Linked DNA regions of Homo sapiens. The protein of the gene in region 2 purifies or fractionates together with the protein of the main gene of each other region. This does not show direct contact. Each region holds a gene or a part of one and is shown on either strand. Other genes may lie near its edges.

Region 1 (3,514 bases), on a different chromosome or scaffold from region 2:
ATGATTTTGCTATAGACACAGTGTGATGAAAAAACATCAAATTTTATTAATATTTATTTTGCTAGGTAGGGTGTTAAAGTACTCATGGCAAATAACCTAACGTCGACCCTGTTAGATGAATTCTGGCATTGCCCCCATTTTAAAGATAAAGAAAGTGAGGTACAAAGAAGTTACGCTCACAGAACTCATTAGCGACAGAGCCAGAATTTAAACTCCAATATCTCACTCTTATTTTCTGGAGTACATTGCCTATTCCATATGTCATGCCCATATCCTGAAGTTGGTGATGATCAGTTATCCAATGACTTTGAGGAGCCAAAATGTATTCCTTTGCTGTGACCTATGGGGTGATTACATTATGCATAAAAGGATATGTGTTTATTACAGACAATTTTCCATTTAAATGAACACTTGTAACTTAATAGAAAGGTTTCAAGGACTTCACTTATGAAGAATAAAGATAAAGGCAGGACTGATTTTGCATTGTAATGTAAATAAGTTTTATTTTTGTATTAGATGACAACATTTAAGTTTGAATGTGCACTTCAGTATTGCAGTATAACTGCAAATACTTGTTTTCTTTGCTCATCTGAACAAGATTTTTAAATTTGAAGTTTATACAATCAAAATATCATAAATAAAGGTGCCTCATTTTCCCCAACAGCACCAAGAAGCATGGGTTTTTAGAGAAGCGTAATGAAAAATAATCCCAATGAACACAAAGTTACCTTAGATGAGTTTTCTTTCACGCACTCCACAAGGTCATCCACTATATTCACAAGTTTGTCTATGATGGAATAATTACTCAAGCCTTCAGAAATATTTGAAAACTTGTCCAGAAGATCAGTCAAGCTGTCTGACAATTGTACTACCATCTCGCTTATCCAACAATGACTTGGCTGCAAGATATGAAAAAAGAGACAAAACAGCTATTTTAATAAGTAAGTGCCATAAAACTCGGAGTACTCTTCAAAGCTATCGTTTTAGTTACTCAAGTGATTCTCCTGCCTCAGCCTCTCGAGTAGCTCAGATTACAAGTGCCTGCCACCATGCCTGGCTACTTTTTTATTTTTAGTAGAGAGGAAGTTTCACCATGTTGGCCAGGCTGTCTCAAACTTCCTGACCTCAAATGATCCACCCGTCTCAGCTTCCCAATGTGCTGGGATTACAAGCATGAACCACCGTGCCTGGCCAGATTTTTAAAATTAATATTACATTACTTAAAATGTTGTAATAGGAGGACAGGGGTTATTGTAACAGGAAGAGAAGGGACTAGTGTGACAGGAGGAGGAGGGACTATTGTAATAGGAGGAGGGACTCTTGTAACAGGAGGAGGAGGTTGTAAGTTTGCATGCTTTATATGATTTTAATGTGTTATCTTTTCTCTTATAAAGATCTTTTAAGTGGAAACTCTGATGTATTTTGAACACTGCTGAAATGCTGCAGTGACAAAAATAACATTGTTATTAAGAATAACATTGAATTGGCTCATTAAAAGCACAAATAATTTAATACAACTTGTAACAAAAATATTGTACTCAGAGTAACTGATGTCATGGAAAATAAATCAAACTACTAAGCTTTATTTCTCTATTTACCAGCAGAATATCTCTGTGGGAAAAGTCAAGCCTTTTATTTATTTATTTATTTATTTATGCTTTAATTTTTTACAGAGACAGGCTCTCTCTCTGAGTCCTGGGCTGTAGTGCAGGGGTGCAATCATGGTTCACTGCAATGTTGAATTCCTGGGCCCAAGTGATCTTCCCACTTCAGCCTCCCAAGTAGCTGGCACTACAAGGCGCATGCTACCAAGTGTGGCTAATTTTTAATTTTTTTATATAAATGGGATCTTGCTTTGCTGCTCAGGCTGCTCTTGAACTCCTGGCCTCAAGCAATCCTCCCTCCTCAGCATTCTAAAATGCTGGGATTAGAGGCGTGAGTCACTGCATCTGGCTCAAGTCATTTATTTATTCTAAAGTATAGAAGGGACCACTTTATATTCATTTAACAGAACTGTTTTACTTAATATAATACAGCCAAAAAGGAAGCAGGTTTATCTGCAGATAGGTAAGCCCCAATTCCTGGAACCATTAAATGTCACTCAAAACTTTTAGGATTGTTGGCTCTGGCTTCAGATAAGAAGGATAAACAAATCTCAACATGGGAATTTAGTTCAAGTGGCCATTTCAACTCGTCATAACCAAGTTCTCAAAGAATATGTGTTTCCAAAGTATGTGCAGAACAGAGTCTTTGTTTTGTTAAATCAGTGCTTACTTCAAGCACATGCAAGTTCCTACTTGCATCATTATCAGGTCTCTTTCAAAGCTGTCAGTCTTTCCTTGGATGCTGAATTGCTCTGCAAGTTTCTTTCCTTTTAGGGAGTGATAATTCCTTATAGACCGTCAGCCCTATCAACAATGAACAGATTTCCTAGGATATGGAACACAGCATACACTGTAAATTGCTATTTGAATAGTATTTATGTGATAGAGTAGCTTTCACCAATTCATTCCGTTGAAATTGTGCAAATTTTTCTAACAATGAAATTCCAGGTATTAATCTCTTAGGACTCTATTTCCTCACTTTATGAGTATGCTTGCCTAGGATCTCTGGCAAGTAAGAACCAAAATCAAATTCCTTGTTTTGAATTAAGACATTCCTTTAGTTTCTGTGGTAGTTGTCTTATATGAATGGGTACTTTGTTCATTTTGCTTTTTTTTTGTGGTTAAAGTAGAAAATGTTTTGTTGATTTGTTTCTTATTTTTAAGCTGAGGAATTCTGGGGTACTTACTGCCACTTCTGTTGATCACTATTTTCAACCGAACTCTATGTTTACATTTTATATTCTAGTTCCTATTTAGCTATTACCCTACCTCCTCCCATTTTCACATAACTAAATCAACAGTCTAAACAATCAACTCTTTCCAGTAAAATTTCCAACCCCAATCCTGTGCTTTCTTAGAGTTAAACCATGGAAATTCCACAATCTAATCCTACTCTAATGTTTGCCCTTCTAAAGTCATGAACAATTTGTTGATAGTTGATATAAACTACGTGCCTACACAGCTGAAAAATCGTGTATTTCTAAAACACTTGTAATCATGTTTCACTCATTTTTTATTTTTGCTTGTGCTATTGTTTCTTTGGAAAAGGCTGAATCATAAATTCAAAGTTCTATTTTTCAGTAATTTGTTTAACCATGTATATATTGGCTTTTTAAGATTCTTGAGTTTATTAAAGATAAAATGAAGGTAAACAAATAATATTAAATGTCAGTCAGTTTTGATCTGCCTGCTTGTAAGAGAGGAAACTAGTTTTGACTGGAATGTCTAGCAGTTTTGTAATTTTTAATTAAATATCGTCAATGATTTGCAAGGAGAATAAAACACAATGAACTAAGTATTTCATTTGTGAGGTGATAGCAGGTCTTTCTGTTTTTCAATTCCTCCACGATTATGATTATGAAATAAATGATTAAAGATTGTCAAATTTACAAACGTACTTTTTGTTTGCC
Region 2 (2,450 bases):
CCATGTTGGCCAGGCTGGTCTCAAACTCCTGACCTCAGGTGATCTGCCCGCCTTGGCCTCCCAAAGTACTGGGATTACAGACGTGAGCCACCGCACCTGGCCAAAATGTTTTAATTAATTAATTATTTCTGTTATCAGATAAGGACTTTCTTTACAAAACCATAATACCATTATCATACCCAACAAAATTAATGATTACTTCATATAATCAAATACACCATTCTCATTCAAATGTCTCCAGTTGTCTCAAAAAATATCTCTTTATAGTCATTTTCTCTATATACATTTACATTAATCTTATTAAGGAGGAAAATTGAACTCCAGAGAGAGTAACTGCCTTATTCAGAATCATAAGGCCACTCTGTGGTAGATGCAGAGCTGGAACTTTTTTTAGTCCTGTGCTCTTTGAATTTTGGTCCACAATTACAAAGACAACTAAATAGTCAAGTCTTCAGGGATTAGAGAGAGATGGGAGAAAATGGAAATAATAATCCTAGTACAAAAACTTTTTTTGAGACAGGGGTCTCACTAAATGTTGCCCAGGCTGGTCTTGAACTCCTGGGGTCAAGCAATCCCCCGGCCTCAGCCTCCCAGGTAGCTGGGACTACAGGTGCACATCACCATGCCCAGCTTCCACCCTAGTAACCTTTGAAGGAGACTTGGTATCTCCTGGCATGTTTCTAGTTCTCAGTGTTCTGGCAGGGCTTTTGGATTCAGCCCTGCATCAGCTCTATCCCCTCTCTTCTGCACTCAGGTGATCACCAGAACGCACCTTTGGATGCTGCAGCATAAAGTCCACGGCTTCTTCAAAGTACTCCAGATGTACATCATTCAGATCTTCGGGGAGGTCTTCAAATCTGAAATAAGCCAGGGCAAGCACAGCAAAACCATGTCCGGCCAGGAGGCTGGCCCTGTATTCACAAAGGCCCCTGCTGCTCCCAAACAGATCAATGATCCCAGGAAAGGGCCCCCTGCCTGGAGAACATCACAAATCACAGGGAGCTTTAGTTTCTCAAAAGACAGTAAGCAAACAAGTTTTTGAAGCCAAGGAGATTGGGGGTAGAGAGATTGGCAGAGAAAGAACAAAATGTCTTATTTTCTCAAACAATAATGATAATATAGAGGGATAAAAAACTACATATTGGGTACAATGTATACTACTCAGGCGACAGGTGCACTAAAATCTCAGCGTTCATCACTGTACAGTTCATCCGTGTAACCCCAAACCACCTGTACACCAAAAGGTATTGAAATTAAAAAAAAAATTTTTTTTTGACAGTCTCACTCTGTCGCCCAGGCTGAAGTGCAGTGGTGCAATCTCAGCTCACTGCAACCTCTGCCCCCTGGGTTCAAGCAATTCTCCTGCCTCAGCCCCCCAAGTATCTGGAATTACAGACATGCAACAGACACCCGGCTAATTTTTTTTGTATTTTTAGTAGAGACTGGGTTTTGCCATGTTGGCCAGGCTGGTCTTGAACTCCTGACCTCAGGTGATCTGCCCACCTTGGCCTCCCAAAGTGCTGCGATTACAGGTGTGAGCCACCGCAACCGGCCTAAAACTTTTTAATGATATAAATTATTGTCACACCACTGCACTCCAGCCTGGGTGACAGAGTGAGACTCTATCTCAAAAATAATAATAATAATAATATTATTTTCACAAACAAAAATAAACCAAGTTAGAAATAACATAATGAGGCCAGGTGTGGTGGTTCATGCCTATAATCCCAGTGCTTTGGGAGGTCAAGATAAGAGGACCACTTGAGGCCAGGAATTCACGACCAGCCTGGGCAACATAACAAGACCCATCTCTACAAAAAAGTTTAAAAAACTAGCTGGGCATGATGGCACTTGCCTATAGTCTTAGCTACTCAGGAGGAAGAGGCGGGAGGATCATCTGAGCCCAAGAGTTCCAGTTTGTGGTGACCTGTGATCACACCACTGCACTGTAGCCTGTAGATCACTGTAACCTTGAATCCTTGGGCTCAAGTGACCCTCCAGCCTCAAGAAGCCACCCTCCCAAGTAGCTAGGCCCCTATGCTTGGCTAATTTTTAACTTTTTATAGAAATAGGGTCTCACTATGCTGCCTGGGCTAGTCTCAAACTCCTGGCCTCAAGCAATCCTCCCACTGCAATGCTCCCACCTCGGCCTCTTCAAGTGCTGGGATTTTAAGTGCGAGCCACTGCACTCAGCCTGTTTGTTTGTTTGTTTGTTTGTTTGTTTGTTTGTTGAGACAAGGTTTCACTCTTGTTGCCCAGGCTGCAGTGCAATGGTGCGATCTCGGCTCACTGCAACCTCCGTCTCCCCCCGGGTTCAAGCGATTCTCCTGCCTCAGCCTCCCGAGTAGTTGGTATTACAGGCATGTGCCACCACACCTGGCTAATTTTGTATTTTTAGTAGAGATGGGGTTTCACCATGTTGGTGAGGCTGGTCTCAAACTCCTGACCTC

Evidence for each region.
Region 1: the proteins of ACOT6 (region 2) and KITLG purify together in Homo sapiens (affinity purification with mass spectrometry; one large-scale study listed by BioGRID and IntAct). This does not show direct contact.

Annotation. Positions count from the first base shown.
Region 1 is NC_000012.12:88,517,969-88,521,482, forward strand, and holds part of KITLG (kit ligand isoform b precursor), read right to left. Parts: intron 900-3,514; coding exon 729-899; intron 1-728. UniProt on the Homo sapiens protein: Ligand for the receptor-type protein-tyrosine kinase KIT. Plays an essential role in the regulation of cell survival and proliferation, hematopoiesis, stem cell maintenance, gametogenesis, mast cell development, migration and function, and in melanogenesis.
Region 2 is NC_000014.9:73,615,515-73,617,964, reverse strand, and holds part of ACOT6 (acyl-coenzyme A thioesterase 6), read right to left. Parts: intron 1,122-2,450; exon of another isoform or gene 972-1,121; coding exon 773-971; intron 1-772. UniProt on the Homo sapiens protein: Catalyzes the hydrolysis of acyl-CoAs into free fatty acids and coenzyme A (CoASH), regulating their respective intracellular levels.